2 separate regions of the Homo sapiens genome follow, and region 2 is linked to region 1. The links come from fine-mapping of genetic effects on gene expression. Tissue or cell type: cerebellum. Region 1 holds a variant in brackets; the other region holds the start of a gene. All regions are shown on one strand. Distances are from middle to middle.

Region 1 (8,090 bases):
TGCCAGCAAGGATGGCAGGAGAGGAGACAGAGGGTCTGGGGAGGGCACCTTAGCTCCATCCAGCTAAGGCTGAGAATGGCTCTCTGTGGAGGGAGTGACCTTTGAACTGTACCTTGAATGATTGGTAGGAGTTGGAGAAGAGGCAGTGCAGAGGGGCCGTTCCAGGTGGGGCACAGGGTGCACACAGGCTTGCAGGTGGGAGGAAAGGGTCGGGCAGGTGTGGGAAGGGGCTGAGCTCAGCTGGAGTGAGGGGTGTGTGACATGAGGGGTGGTATGGCAGCTTGAGAAGGCCAGCTGGAGCCAGTAAGTAATACAGTTCAGAAATTCTTACTGTAATGGGAAGACTCTTAAGAGCATCTTTTGGTGTACATTTGTTCAACAAGATGCCAGCCACTGAATATTCTGGCTAGTTACGGTTTTGTCATAGTATTCTTAAAATGGTTAAAGAGGCCAGGCGCGGTGGCTCACGCCTATAAATCCAGCACTTTGGGAGGCTGAGGTGGGCAGATAGCTAGAGCCTGGGAGTTTGAGACCAGCCTGGCCAACATGGGGAAACCCTGTCTCTACAAAAAATACAAAAATTAACCGGGTGTGGTGGCACTCGCCTGTAGTTGCAGCTACTTAGGAGGCTCAGGCAGGAGAATCACTTGAACCCGGGAGGCAGAGATTGCAGTGAGCCGAGATCATACCACTGCACTTCAGCCTGGTTGAGCAGAGTGAGAACCTGTCTCAAAAAAACAAAAACAAACAAAAAATGGTTAAAGAGTGTCTTCTTAATGTGTTTGATGTACATTTCATCTGTGTGTTAACTTTTAGGGAAGAAGGAGGGGCCGGCGTCAGTGACGTCAGCGAGACCGAGGTGAGCGTGGGCGTTGCCAGTGGTGCTCTGTCAGTGCCTATGGTAGGTACAGCCTGAGACGGCCCCTTAGGGACCATTTGCCCACACGGTGGGAGAGAGGGCGCGGGGCCTGGGAGGGACACCTGATGGTCTGGCTAAAGCACCTGCCCCAGTTGCTTAGTGAAATGTGGATGAGGATGTTTGGCCCGTCTGCCTCGGTAGGTTTGGGGTCTCACACCTGAAAGCGTTGAGGCCTGGGGAAGCACTGTGTGAGAATCGCGCACAGCCTTCCTGGTCTCCAGTCACTACTCTTCTGTCACCTCCAGGTAGATGTCAGTGGCTGGTGTGAGGTCACCCACTAAGATGCTTGCTTTAAGTACAACATGTGAACCATGCAGCCTGGACGGCGGTGGTTGGGGGGTGGTCCCCAGGCCGCAAGCAGGATTCATCAGGAAATCACAGCTGTGGAGGCTGAAATCACATAGTGAAAATGAAAAGTTCCCTGAGCCATTGGCGTGGCCCCGTGTCTGCGGGTGTGAGGGGTGTGGAATCGGCTCACGCTCTGGGATGCAGCTCCCGTGGTCCCCATGTCTTCGGGTGTGAGGGGTGTGGGATGGGCTCACACCTGGGGTGTGGCTCCTGTGGCCCCCGTGTCTGCAGATGTGAGGGGTGTGGGATGGGCTCACGCTCTGGGGTGCGGCTCCCTTGGCCCCCATGTCTGTGGGTGTGAGGGGTGTGGGATGGGCTCACGCTCTGGGGTGCGGCTCCCGTGGTCCCCGTGTCTGTGGGTGTGAGGGGTGTAGGATGGGCTCACGCTCTGGGGTGCGGCTCCCATGGTCCCCGTGTCTGCGGGTGTGAGGGGTGTGGGATGGACTCACGCTCTGGGGTGTGGCTCCCGTGGTCCCCTTGTCTGCGGGTGTGAGGGGTGTGGGATGGACTCACGCTCTGGGGTGCGGCTCCCGTGGTCCCCGTGTCTGTGGGTGTGAGGGGTGTGGGATGGGCTCACGCTCTGGGGTGCGGCTCCCGTGGTCCCCGTGTCTGTGGGTGTGAGGGGTGTGGGATGGGCTCACGCTCTGGGGTGCGGCTCCCGTGGTCCCCGTGTCTGTGGGTGTGAGGGGTGTGGGATGGGCTCACGCTCTGGGGTGCGGCTCCTGTGCTTTTATTGTCATCTTGGTGTGACTGCTGAGGTTCCACGTGCACCATATCGGATCACCTAACAGCAGTCCTTTATACAGCACCTTGTAGCTTGCAGAGAGCGGTTCTGTTTATTGCTCATTGACCCTGTGACCTGGGTGTTGTCATCATCCTGCCAAAGGCCAGGTTCACAGAGGGAAGTGATGGGCTGTGTGGAGAGAGGCGGCACTTTAGAGTAGTATCATCCCGGCTTTGAATCAGGGCACCCGGACTCCCTTGAGTCTGTTTCCTTTTCTTCTCTTCTCTTCTCTTTTGTTTTTCCTTCCTTTTCTTTTCTGACAGAGTCTTGCTGTGTCGCCCAGGCTAGAGTGCAATGGTGCGATCTTGGCTCACTGTGACCTCCGCCTCTCGGGTTCAAGCAATTCTCCTGCCTCAGCCTCCTGAGTAGCTGGGATTACAGGCACATGCCACCACGCCCAGCTAATTTTTGTATTTTTAGTAGAGACGGGGTTTCCCCATGTTGGCCAGGGTGGTCTTGAACTCCTGACCTCAGGTGATCCGCCCACCTCAGCCTCCCAAAGTGCTGGGATTGTAGACATGAGCCACTGCACCCAGCTGAGTCTGGTTCTTACACAGGCTCTTAACTGTTGAGCCTCAGCTTCCTCATTGGTGCAGTGGGGATGATGATGATAATAGTGAATGTCTCTTGAGTGCTTTTTTTTTTAAGACAGGGTCTCACTCTGTCCCCCAGGTTGGAGTGCAGTGGCGTCATCCTGGCTCACAGCAGCTTGACCTCCCAGATTCAAGTGATCCTCCTGCCTCAGCTTCCCAAGTAGCTGGGACTATTGGTGCATGCCACCACGCCCAGCTAATTTTTGTATTTTTTTGTAGAGATGGGGTTTTGCCATGTTGCCCAGGCTGGTCTCAAACTCTTGGGCTCAAGTGATCCGCCTGCCTCGGCCTCTCAAAGTGCTGGGATTATAGGCGTGAGCCACCGCGCCCGGCCAGAAGATTGTCTTAAGTACAACGTGTGAATTGTACAGGCCAGATGCCTGTGGTGTGGGGGTTGCCAGGGTGGGGAGGCAGCCTCCTGTAGCCTTCCTGGTTGGAGCCGGGGTGGGAGCCTTGAATCTTGGGCTGCCTGAGCAGTTTGAAAACGAGACTTTTCAGAGCAGACCGAGGTCCAGAGTCCTCCTGTAACTATGATAGCTCCGAGTCCCACAGTGGCGCTGACAGGCCTGGGACAGCAGCCAGTTTCTCCATCTGAACTGAGCATCCCTCACGTGCCAGGCATGGAGCTGGGCCCTGGGCACATGGCAGTGAAGAAGAAAGCAAGCCAGCTCCCTGGCCCCCAGCAGGGACAGCAGATGCTTGATACAGAGCTCCAGGGTTGCCGAGGGGT[A/G]CAGCACCTTGTTTGGAGGGTCAGGGAGGCTTTGTGGAGCAAGCGACATTCATTTATGCTGGCAGATGAGTGGGAGGCGGCTTAGCCAGGCAGAGATCGAGGGCAGCATGCTGCAGGCGGAGGGGCCCAGTGTGTGCGAGGCCTGTGGCAGGAGAGAGAGTGGGCAGAGAAGCCCAGCGTGGCAGAACAGAGGGTAAAGGAGAAGGTGGTGTGAGGTGTACCTGGGGAAGCAGGTGAGGGCCAGGGGTCTGTGTGTTTAAGTGCCCTGGGGAGTCATGGAGGTTATTAAATGGGAGTGATGTCGTCAGATAAACAATTTTTTTTTTTTGAGGTGGAGTCTCACTCTGTCACCCAGGCTGGAGTGCAGTGGTGCGATCTCCGCTCACTGCAATCTCCGCCTCCCGGGTTCACACCATTCTCCTGCCTCAGCCTCCCAAGTAGCTGGGACTACAGGCGCCTGCCACCGCACCCGGCTAATTTTTTGTATTTTTAGTAGAGACGGGGTTTTACTGTGTTAGCCAGGATGGTCTCGATCTCCTGACCTCGTGATCCACCTGCCTCGGCCTCCCAAAGTGCTGGGATTACAGGCGTGAGCCACCATGCCTGGCCCAGATAAACACTTGTTAAAAAATTATTTTATTTTTATTTTATTTGATTTATTATTATTATTATTATTTTGAGATGGAGTCTCGCTCTATCGCCCAAGCTGGGGTGCAGTGGCGCAATCTCTGCCCACTGCAACCTCCACCTCCCAGGTTCAAGTGATTCTCCTACCTCAGCCTCCCGAGTAGCTGGGATTACAGGCGCATGCCACCATGCCTGGCTAATTTTTTGTATTTTTAGTAGAGACAGGGTTTCACCGTGTTAGCCAGGATGGTCTCAATCTCCTGACCTCATGATCTGCCCACCTTGGCCGCCCAAAGTGTTGGGATTACAGGCGTGAGCCACCGCGCCCGGCCTATTTTTATTTTTTGCGATGGAGTCTCGCTCTGTCGCCGAGGCTGGAGGGCAGTAGTGCGATCTCAGCTCACTACAACCTCTGCCTCCCGGGTTCAAGCGATTCTCCTGCCTCAACCTCCCGAGTAGTTGGGATTACGGGTGCGCACAACCACACCCGGCTAATTTTTGTATTTTTAGTAGAGATGGGGTTTCACCACATTGGCCACGCTGGTCTTGAACTCCCAACCTCAGGCGATCCGCCTGCCTCGGCCTCCCAAAGTGCTGGGATTACAGGCATGAGCCACCACGCCCAGTCCAGATAAACACTTACGGTCACTCTGCAGTTACAGAGGGTGACTTGAAGTAGGGAGACAGGCAGTGCCTGGAGGGATGTGGGACAGGCATGCTGATCCCCACTCACCCATCGGAAGTCGGCCCGAGGGTCCCCTTCTCAGGGTGGCCCTCCCCAGCTGCCCTGTCTGCGGCTCTCAGAGCCCCATGTGCCCCTCCTTTGTGGCTCCTGGCACACTTGCAGTTGAACATTCCCGGGTGGTGATTTGATGGCTGCCTCTATCTCCCACCAGACCAGGGTTTCTCAGCCTTGGCACAGTTGACATTTGGGGCTGGATAATTGGTTGTGAGGGGTCATCTGTGCAGTCGGACATCGAGCAGCATCCCTGGCCTGGACATGCCCGATGCCAGAGGCATCCCCTGGTCATGACAACCAGACTCTCTAGACATTGCCAGGTGTCCCCTGGGAGATGGAATCACTCCTGGTTGAGAACCATTGCCGGGGTAAGATCGAGTTTGGGATGGGCATGCTGTTTAGAGGATTCCTTGGGTTTAAAGGGAAGTGAGCTGTTGAAGTTTCATATCTCTAATATTTTGATCTCTTCCAGGATTATGGCAGGGAAAGTAAAATGGGTCACTGATATCGAGAAGTCAGTGCTGATCAATAACTTTGAAAAGAGAGGATGGGTCCAAGTGACAGAAAACGAGGACTGGAATTTTTACTGGTAAGCATACACAGCAGGGCTGGGTTGTTTCTCTGAGGCTTACGTATCGGTTTTACTAATTCCAGTGCCTCCCAGAGAGTGGCCTCAGAGCCACTGTCTCCTGTCATTGTGCCATCTCCCCGCACACATTTTTCCTTAAGGTTTTTTGTGAGAGTATGTGTTGTGGTGTGTTCCCACATCACTGTGTTCACCCTGGGGTATGAAGTCCGGGGTGTTTCAGCACAGCAACCCTGTGGGGAGTTTGGGTGAGAAACAAGAGCCTCAGCCCTCCCCTTCCAGTGAGCGTGCGTTATAGCTGGGCCAGAGGACAGGACAGAGTCTTGCTCTGTCACCCAGGCTGGAGTGCAATGGTGCGATCTCAGCTCATTGCAATCTCTGCCTCCTGGGTTCAAGCGATTCTCCTGCCTTAGGCTCCCAAGTACCTGGGATTACAGGCGCCACCACACCTGGCTAATTTTTTTGTGTTTTTAGTAGAGACGGGGTTTCACCATGTTGGCCGGGCTGGTCTTGAACTTTGTGATCCACCCGCCTCGGCCTCCCAAAGTGCTGGGATTACAGGTCTAAGCCAAGCGCCTGGCCACATTTTTTTCTTTTTTTGTAGAGACAGGGTCTTGCTATGTTGCCTAGGCTGGTCTTGAATTCCTGGCCTCAAGGGACCTTCCCATCTCGGCCTCCCAAAGTGCTGGGATTACAGGCATGAGCCACCATGTCCGGCCATGAATAAGAAGCAGTTTGGAGTTATTCTTTTTTTCTTTTTTGGTCATAAAGCTGCTGTTTATTTATTTATTTATTTATTTCAGAGGCAGAGTCTTCCCATGTTGCCCAGGCTGGTCTCAAACTCCTGGACTCAAGTGATCTTCCCACTTCAGCCTCCCAAAGTGTTGGGATTACAGGCGTGAGCCACTGTACCCAGCCTTCGGAGCTATTCTCAACAACAGCAAAAAATGGAATGAAATGAAGAAAAAGGCTAAACAGTGTAATAGTCTTGGCTAATTGATACATATATTTTTTTTTCTTTCTTTCTTTCTTTTTTTTTTTTTTTTTTTGAGACGAAATTTCGCTCCTGTCACCCAGACTGGAGTGCCATGGGGCAATCTCGGCTCATTGCAACCTCCACCTCCTGGGTTCAAGCGATTCTCCTGCCTTAGCCTCCCTAGTAGCTGGGATTACAAGCATGTGCCACCACGCCTGGCTTATTTTGTATTTTTAGTAGAGACGGGGGTTTCTCCATGTTGGTCAGGCTGGTCTCGAACTCCCGACCTCAGGTGATCCGCCCGCCTTGGCCTCCCAAAGTGCTAGGATTACAGGCGTGAGCCACTGTGCCTGGCCAAGCTAATTGATATTTTGAGAGCTCTTGTTCTGGCCGTCATGCCCGTAATCCCAGCACTGTGGGAGGCCAAGGCCGGTGGATCACTTGAGGCCAGGAGTTGGAGACCAGCATGACCAACATGACAAAACCTTGTCTCTACTAAAAATACAAAAAAACTAGCTGGGTGTGGTGGTGCCTGCCTGTAATCCCAGGAACTCGGGAGATTGAAGCAGGAGAATCGCTTGAACCCAGGAGGTGGAGGTTGCAGTGAGCTGAGATCGCGCCACTGCACTCCAACCTGGGTGACAGTGAGACTCTGTCTCAAAAAAAATAAATAAATAAATAAATAAAAAAGAAGAGCTTCTGTTCTAAGCACTAAATGTACAATCAGGTTTACAGAAAAATTGGTTGGGGTAAAATACTGGAAACAACTAAATGTTAAACAGTATGGGGGGGTGGGTTAAGTACTTTGAGTGGATTATGGTGCAGCCGTTAAAATAATTATGATGGGCTGGGCACAGCGGCTCATGCCTGTAATCCCAGCACTTTGGGAGGCCAAGGCGGGTGCATCACCTGAGGTCAGGAGTTGGAGACCAGCCTAGCCAACTTGGTGAAACCCCATCACTACAAAAATACAAAAATTATCTGGGTGTGGTGGTGCGCACCTGTAATCCTAGCTGCCCGGGAGGCTGAGGCAGGCAAATGGCCTCAACCTGGGAGGCAGAGGTTGCAGTGAGCTGAAATCACACCACTGCACTCCAGCCTGGGTGACAGAGTGAGACTGTACCTCAAAAAATAAAATAAATAAATAAATAAATAAATAAATAAATAAATAAATAGACCGGGCGCAGTGGCTCACACCTATAATCTCAGCACCTTGGGATGCCCAGGCAGGTGGATCACCTGAGGTCAGGAGTTTGAGACCAGCCTGGCCAACCATGGCCAACATGGTGAAACCCTGTCTCTACTAAAAATACAAAAATTAGCTGGGCTTAGTGGCAGGCGCCTGTAATCCCAGCTACTTGAGAGGCTGAGGCAGGGAGAATTGCTTGAACCCAGGAGGCGGAGGTTGCAGTTAGCTAAGATCGCACCACTGCACTCCAGCCTGGGCGACACAGCAAGACTGTCTCAAAAAAAAAAAAAGAATAATTGCAATGAATTGAAACTTATCATATGTATTTGAATTTATAAGTTCATACAACTGCAAACAGAAAAATACCCCAAAAGCCACATACCCAATTTGTGGCAGATTAAAGATGGCCACAGGCCAGGGCATAGAACTCTTGGGCACAGTGGCTCATGCCTGTAATCCCAGCACCTTGCGAGGAGTTTGAGACCAGCCTGGGCAGTATACTGAGACCCTGTCTCAAAAAAATTAGCTGGGTGGTGGGGTGCCTGGGTGCAGTGACTCATGCCTGTAATCCCAGCCTTTTGGGAGGTGGAGGCAGACAG
Region 2 (8,090 bases), 37 kb after region 1:
TCGGGGCTGGGTCCTGATGGCCCCTGTGCTGGAGGACTGAGGGGGTCTGTGAGTGTGTACAGGGTGGGGACCATTGCGGGGAGACTTGTCAGTAGCATGAGGACCTTGGGGGGTTCTCTTCAGTCCAGTTGAGGGTGGTGGAGAGGCTGGCTTGTTGGGAGCGTGTAGAGCCTCTGCCGCGTCCAGCCTGTGGACTTCTTGAGGGAGTGGGCCAGACTCGCCATTTCCCGGCCAAGAAGCAGAGGCCAGGCTGGGTATGGTGGCTCATACCTGTAATCCCAGCACTTTGGGAGGCCAAGGCAGGTGGCTCACCTGAGGTCATGAGTTCAAGACCAGCCTGGCCAACATGGTGAAATCCCGTCTCTGCTAAAAATACAAAAATTAGCCGGGCGTGGTGGTGGGCACCTGTAATCCCAGCTACTTGGGAGGCTGAGGGCAGGAGAATGGCTTGAACCCAGGAGGCGGAGGTTGCAGTGAGCCGAGATCGTGCCACCGCACTCCAGCCTGGGCGACACAGCGAAAGTCTGCCTCAAAAAAAAAAAAAAAAAAAGAAAAAGCAGCAGAGGCCAGAGCCTCACTGCTTTTAGTTGAAGAGACAACAAGGTGAACCCCCCTCCCTGATCCAGCCGTCCTCTCCTGGCTCCTGAGGAGTAATGGAAGGCTCTTGTGTGGAGCTGATGGCCTCTAAACGCTTCTAGTCAGGGCTTGCTTCCCTTAGGCATTCAGCTGATCAAAGAACCCCAGCTCCATTTTCAGGTGCAGCCACCAGCAGCAGTAGCAGTTGGTGCTGACTGGGAGGGCCACGTCATCTGAGCGGCGCCGCCCGTCCATGCCAGGTGCTCTGCGTGCCCACAGCAACTCCTCAGAGCCCAGCAGCATCTAGCAGAGGACACTGGCCGCATGAGGTCACGTGCCCCAGGCCATACCATTGGCTGTGGCCCTACAAGGCCTGGCACTTTGCATCTGCCACCTCCAGGACCCTGTTCCGAAGTTGCTGACTGTACTTTTACAGCCTTTAAAAAACCCTAACAGTGACTAGATTGTTTCTGTGAAAAGCCAGAAGAAAAGCCTGCTAGAACAGGAACTTCGAAGAGCCATCTTGGCTCTGATTCTCCTCTGCGTTGGCTCGGTAGGTGGCCAGACCACCCCTGGGAACAGCGCATCCCGGTGCCAGCTGCTTGCCAAATGCTCCTTTCTGTTTGTTTTGTTTTTTGAGCCACACAGATCAGCACAAGTGCTCCGTGAAACCGGTCACCATATGTGGTCCTTTTCTCCATTCATTCAGTAGATTCCTATCCACCAGACCTTGAGCAAGCTGCTGGGGGCAGCCACGAACCAGACGGGCGGTCACTGCAGCCCCCTGGCCAGGGAAGCAAACACGGGGGCAGTGGAGTGACGACATTTATGAATGTGGAGTCCCCACGGGGTAGGGGTATCTGATCCTGTGGAGAGGCGCCAGGGAGGCTTCCTGGAGGACCCCCCCCACCCAGGCAGATTCCAGAGTTCCAGGGGTGTCCTGTCCGGCTTCCTTGTGTCATAGGGACTATGGCTGTGTCTCTCCTTCGAGAGCCAGAGAGGAAGCAGGCCCCTGTATCATCATCCTGACAGCTCCACCCTGGTGCAGAGCCTGGATCCCTGTGGTGTCTGCTTCACAGACAGAAGTCAGAAAATGCGGCCAGGCGCAGTGGCTCACACCTGTAATCCCAGCACTTTGGGAGACCGAGGCAGGAAGATTGCTTGAGCTCAGGGGTTCGAGGCCAGTCTGGGCAACATGGTGAAACCCCATCTCTACCAAAAATACAAAAAGTTAGCCGGGCGTGGTGGCATGCGCCTGTAATGCCAGCTACTTGGGAGGCTGAGGCATGAGAATCTCTTGAACCCAGGAGGCAGAGGTTGCAGTGAGCCAAGATCGGGCCACTACACTCCAGTCTGGGTGACCGTTTAAAAAAAAAAAAAGGAATCAGAAAATGCTTTCTTCCCACCTACTCTTTCAGTCCCAGTTTGCCACCAGAAGCACAATGCAGAAAATACATTCTTTAACCTCAGAAGTTTCTAACTCATACTACATTCAACCTGCAAACTCTGGTTTTGGTAATAAGCTTATCACAGAAATCCACCCTTTTCCAGAAGTCCACATGATTAGCACTCAGCATCTGGGTACCTTTTGTGTTTGACACAAATACCTACATACAACCGAGGGTCCTAGTCAGGATGGCCAGCGCAGCACACCGACGGATGTGCTTTAACTGGGGAAAGATGCTTTCCACACTCCTCAGCGCTATGGGACAAAAAACTCCGAATTAGAAATCAGAAGTCCTAGAGGTTAATCTTACCTGTGCCACAGGCCAGCTGTGGGACCCTAGGCCCTGAGCAAACCTCTAGAACCCCAGTTTCCCCCCATAGGAAGCAAGTCCTGGTGCTGCCGCCCGAGTTGGGAGGATAATGTCAGTCACCGTGGAGGGGGGCGGCCCCATTCCCCCAGCCTGCTCCCTGCCACAGCCTGCAATAGGTGCAGGCAGCAACGACCATGCTCCAGGACCCCGTGAGAGAAGGGCCCCGCCACTGTGGGAAGGACCCAGGACTTGCCCAGATGCTGTGACCACCCCGTCTGGGGAGCTGCAGCTGGCATCCAGCTCTTCCAGACACGAAAATTCAGGCTGTTTCCTACACTGCTGCCTCCTTAGCACACGCGGCCTTAGGATGCATGAACGTTAATTGGGAAACAGGCAGTTAAAGAAAATGGGGGCCAGGCACGGTGGCCCACGCCTGTCATCCCAGCACTTTGGGAGGCCGAATGGGCAGATCACCTGAGGTCAGGAGTTCGAGACCAGCCTGGCCAACATGGGGAAACCCTGTCTCTACTAAAAATACAAAAATTTGCTGGGTGTGGTGGTGGGCACCTATGATCCCAGCTACCTGAAAGGCTGAGGCAGGAGAATCGCTTGAACCAGGGAGGTGGAGGTTGTAGTGAGCCAAGATTGCGCCACTGTATACCAGCCTTGGTGATAGAGTGAAACTCCATCTCAAAAAAAAAGAAAATGGGGAGGGGTGGCGTGGGTCACACTGGCAGAGTCTCTAGCTGAGTGTGCACCGTGGGGCCTCTCTGCCCTGGCCTCCACTGACCAGTGCTCATGTACCACTCCCATCTGGAATGGAGTTAGTCCCCCCAGCCTGCAGGTGCCTTGTGTGAAGCGTTTCCAGCCAGGCAGTCTCACCTCACTTACCCTGGGCTGGTTCTGTGTCACCTCATGCATGTTGCCTTTGGAGTCATTGCCATATTTGACCTGGTGACCTGTATAAAATGTCAGCTTCCGAGGGGAGACCACTGTCCACAATAACAACAAGGTTGTACACATAGGCAGGCTGGCCTTGGGGAGCATTTGCTGGGCTGCGAGAGCCACCTGGCAGGCAGGTGGGCTGGAGCCAGGTGGGAGGTGGGCGGGAGCCAGCAGGAGTCGCGAGGGTGGGGCCCCCTCAGGCCGCTTCTCTGGGTGATGTCATATTTGCCACACAGCAGCCTGGTGGCCCTGCCTGTTGCCTTTGAAAGAGAGCCTGCCGTGATCCTGGCTGTTTCTGTCTCCAGGTATGATGAAGAATTGGCCCAGGGTGACGGGGCTGACCGGGAGCTGAGAAGCCGTCAGGGTCAGTCTCTGGGGCCCAGAGCAGGCCGATCGAGAGACTCGGGGAGAGCGGTCCTCACCACCTGGAAGTGAGTCCCACCTGGACCTTATCAAAACTACTCACTCCACCTGGGCCCCTGCTGAAGCCCTATTTTGAAATTTCCCTTTTGTAGAGCTTTTTTCCTTTCCTAAGCCCTGTAAATAAACGAAGGCACTTCTTTGGAAGGTTATGGAGTCTGTTTGACTAGTGCTAAAGGAAACAATTCATGCGGATGTATAAAACTCGCTCTTTTTTTTTTAATTTTTAACCTAAGCAGAATTTTCATATTAAAAACTCACTTTTTTGACAGAAAGTAACAGCTTCAAGCATGTAATTTGATGTGTCACAAGGTTTAAACATTAAAAAAACTTTACACTAAATTAAAAACAAAACAAATCTTATAGACTCGTCCTGCCACGAGAGAGGAATGTATTTAACTGACGGCTCTTTTAGTTGCGTTTCTTTTTACTTGACTGCGATTTTTTTTTTTTTTCCCGAGACAGAGTTTTGCTCTGTCGCCCAGGCTGGAGTGCACTGGCACAATCTTGGCTCACTGCAACCTCTGCCTCCTGGGTAGTATTTCTCCCACCTCAGGCTCCCAAGTAGCTGGGATTACAGGCGTGTGCCACCACACCTGGCTAATTTTTGTATTTTTAGTAGAGATGGGGTTTTGACCATGTTGGGCAGGCTGGTCTCAAACTCCTGACCTCAGGTGATCTGCCCACCTCGGCCTCCCAAAATGCTGGGATTACAGAGGTGAGCCACCACGCCCAGCTTACTTGACTGTGATTTTGAAGAAAACAGGCAACTAGAAATATTCCTCGGTAATTTATCTTTACAAAGGCCTTTGTCTAGGTGCTCCCAGGAAGACCTGTTTTCTTTTCTTTTCTTCTCTTTTCTTTTTTTTTTTCTTTTCAGACAGGATCTCGCCCTGTCACCCAGGCTGGAGTGCCGTGGTGCCATTGTGGCTCAACTTCCTGGGCTCAAGTGATCCGCTCACCTCAGCCTCCCGAGTAACTGGGACCACACAGGCACACACCACCACCCCCAGCTACTTTTTAAAGTTTTTTTTGTAGAGACAGAGTTTCACCATGTTGGCCAGGCTGTTCTCGAACTCCTGGGCTCAAGCGATACTCCTGCCTAAGCTTCCCAAAGTGTTGGGATTACAGGCATGAGCCACCACGCCTGGCTTCAAAAAGACCTGTTTCTACCACTTCGGTTTTGTGGATGAGTCTGTTGTAAATGGAACTAGATGAGCACAGACAGGTCCGGCTGTGTGCCTTTTATGACGTCAGCAGCTGGGTTTGCTACAGGGAAGCGCCGTGGGCAGCCAGGAGCTGTGGGAGGAGCGATGGCTGCGGGACAGGCTGCGCGAGCGTGGTTGTTCCCATGCAGTCTCCCGGTAGCCCGGTGACTTACAGGAGTGTATGGAGAGGACCTGAGTTGGTGGGTAGATGGACAGATGCATTTGAGTAATAACTCATGAGTTACAGTGCTGTTCTTAGGAAGGGTCTTTTTTTTTTTTTTTTTTTTTGAGGTGGAGTTTCACTCTTGACACCCAGGCTGGAGTGCAATGGCACAATCTAGGCTCACTGCAACCTCCACCTCCTGGGTTCAGGCGATTCTCATGGCTCAGCCTCCCAAAGAGGTGGGCTTACAGGCGCCTGCCACCACGCCCAACTAATTTTTGTATTTTTAGTGGAGACGGGGTTTCACCATGTTGGCCAGGCTGGTCTCGAACTCCTGACCTCAGGTGATCCTCCCGCCTCCGCCTCCCAAAGTGCTGAAATTACAGGCGTGAGCCACTGCGCCCGGCCAGGAAGGGCCTTTTACTCATGGTCGTATTAACACGTATTTGCTGAAGTTTCACTCGCTGTCTTGAGTTTATCTTTAAAGCTTGCCACCTGTTTTTGTTGCAATGCTAGTAACAGGAGTTTGTTCTCCCAAATGGCACCAAGGGTATGTCCTTCAGATAAGGGTCTTAACTGACTTGCCCAGGCTCTCTCAGTGCCCATGCATGGACGTGTGTCAAGTGTACATGCCATATTGTGTGTGTGTATATGAGTACATATATTTAATGATGTTTCACTGCCAATTAGGGAAAAATAGGTCTTTTCAACACAAATGGTACTTGGCTGGACTCCAAATAAACTACAATTGGTGGGCTTTTCAGCCATTCCTTCTTCGTGATCTTATTGGTATGTGTGTTGTGTGTGTTCCCTGGTGTTTAAGTTTTGTTTTGTTTTGTTTTGTTTTTGAGACAGAGTCTCGCTCTGTCGCCCAGCAGGCTGGAGTGCAGTGGCGCAACCTCAGCTCACTGCAATCTCTGCCTCCCGGGTTGAAGTGATTCTCGTGCCTCAGCTTCCCAAGTAGCTGGGATTACAGGTGTACACCACCATGCCCGGCTAATTTTTGTATTTTTAGTAGAGATGGGGCTTCACCATGTTGGCTAGGCTGGTCTCAAACTCCCAGCCTTAGGTGATCCGCCTGCCTCAGCCTTCCAGAGTGCTGGGAATACAGGTGTGAGCCACTGCGCCCAGCCGTGGGGTTTAGTTTTAATGTGTTTGCTGTTGATGGCGGGTGTGGGATGGAGATCCCCGAGTCAGACTTGGCCTTGTGGCCTGGCTCTGCTGTTTATTAGCTGTTTCCCAAGCCTGTCCCTGGGGTCGTTGCACCTTTGTTTCCCACTGTATAAAATGGGGAGTTCTGTGGCCGGGCGCAGTGGCTCATGCCTGTAATCCCAGCACTTTGGGAGGCCGAGGAGGGTGGATCATCTGAGGTCAGGAGTTCGAGACCAGCTTGGCCAACATGGTGAAACCTCATCTCTACTAAAAATACAAAAATTAGCCTGGAGGCTGAGGCAGGAGAATCGCTTGAACCCAGGAGGCGGAGGTTGCGGAGAGCCGAGATGGCGCCATTACACTCAAGCCTGGGCAATAAGAGCGAAACTCCGTCTCAAAAAAAAAAAGGGGGGGAGTTCTGTTTGCCTCAGAAACAACCAGTACCACCGCACAGGGACCCTGCCCGCACGCCTTGCTGGCTCTGGCGAGCCCTCTTACCTCCCAGGAGGGGGTGTCCTCTGCACAGCTGGCGGCTCCACCTCGGCTCCTACACGCAGAAGTGAAAGACACCCCGTTAACTGTTCCCAGCTCTTCCACCGGTTTTTACAACCCGGTTCTCAGTTACATTGTGTTGTTTTTGCCTCCCTCTGGGAGAAGGGTGGAGTCCCTGGTTGGGAACGTTGGCCTCTGAGGCTCCGGGGCCACGCAGTCCTAATGGAAGAGTCACACCAAGTGGTTAGTTTGCTGGTGACCCAGTTGCTAGGTGAGAGTGAGGCTCTGCTAAGTGGATTTATGTCATATAGTGACTGTCTCATTAATGATTTAGTGATGTCATGTTCTGGGCAGATGTTTCCTCTGAGCACTTCCAGGACACGGGTGGGAAGGGTGCGGTGTTGGCAGCAGGCCTCGGGAGGCTGTCGGGCCAGGAACAGCCCCATTCAGCGCTAGGCTGGGGCTAAGCAGTGAGCCCTGCTGGGAGCTGTCCGGGAGCCGTTGCTGTTTTCTTGTCAGCCCCCACACACTTGATGGGGTGGGTCCCAGGCCAGAGGGTTGCATCCTGTGGTCGTTTTCACCAAGTTTGATAGGCTTGGTTTTCCCAATATAAACCCATCCTCGACTGGGCACAGTAGCTCACGCCTGTAGTCCCAGCACTTTGGGAGGCTGAGGTGGGTGGATCACCTGAGGTCAGGAGTTTGAGACCAGCCTGGCCAACAAGGTGAAACCCCGTCTCTACTAAAAATACAAACATTAGCTGGGCTTGGTGGTTCATGCCTGTAATCCCACCTACTTGGGAGGCTGAGGCGGAAGAATCACTTGAACCCAGGAGGCGGAGGTTGCAGTGAGCCGAGATCGCACCATTGCACTCCAGCCTGGACAACTGAGCAAGACTCCATCTCAAACAAAAGAAAACCACCATCCTTCACCTCCTTTGCACACGGGCTGCTCCCCGGGTATTAGTGAGGGCCTGGTGACAACCTTCTCACTGTCTCCCTTCTCCTCCTCCGCCTCCCACCTGGGCTGCCATGGAGACCCCATCAGTCTGGACCCGCATCTGGTTGCGCTCCACCAGCTGCTAGGACTTTCCTCACAGGGGGCCATTTCCCCTCCACACAGTGGTTCTTCAGGGTGCTCCATAAAGCCTCCTATGCTTGCCACCCATTGGCCTGTTGGCTCACACTGCCACACACCATGTCCACCAGTGCCAAACACACGCAGCTCCTCTCTGAGTGCCCCCAGGGGCCAGCGCACTCTCCACCCTCCCCTCTGGAGCCATTCCCAGCTGTGCTGCGGCCGCCTGGCCCTCTCCCCGCAGCAGCCCTGCAGCCCCTGTGGTCTGGGGAGGCCAAGGTCTCCTGCAGGGCCCTGCCT

Direction of the effects. Alleles are on the strand shown, and positions count from the first base shown. SD is a standard deviation of normalised expression in the study named.
For the expression in cerebellum of the gene that starts at base 4,904 in region 2, allele G in region 1 goes with a lower level than allele A (small effect, 0.39 SD a copy in GTEx).

What was found. PIP is the estimated chance that this variant, and not a neighbour inherited with it, causes the effect.
Region 2: TTLL1-AS1 starts here. The variant in region 1 is fine-mapped to the expression of TTLL1-AS1 in cerebellum (GTEx, PIP above 0.99). The same link has a PIP of 0.9 or more in cerebellar hemisphere.

The regions. Positions count from the first base shown.
Region 1 is chr22:43,072,713-43,080,802 of GRCh38, reverse strand. TTLL1 (TTL family tubulin polyglutamylase complex subunit L1) reads left to right here. Exons shown (of 11, transcript NM_012263.5): 2 at 817-901; 3 at 5,213-5,329. The coding sequence starts at 5,217. Among named protein-coding and RNA genes, the nearest start is that of TTLL1, 13 kb to the left of the region's middle. RefSeq lists enhancers at 1,234-1,755, 1,756-2,278. The variant A/G (reference allele first, on the strand shown) is at 3,375.
Region 2 is chr22:43,035,399-43,043,488 of GRCh38, reverse strand. TTLL1-AS1 (TTLL1 antisense RNA 1) reads right to left here and starts at 4,904. Exons shown (of 3, transcript NR_125362.1): 1 at 3,225-4,904; 2 at 2,188-2,278. TTLL1 (TTL family tubulin polyglutamylase complex subunit L1) reads left to right here. Exons shown (of 11, transcript NM_012263.5): 11 at 3,584-3,973. The coding sequence ends at 3,713.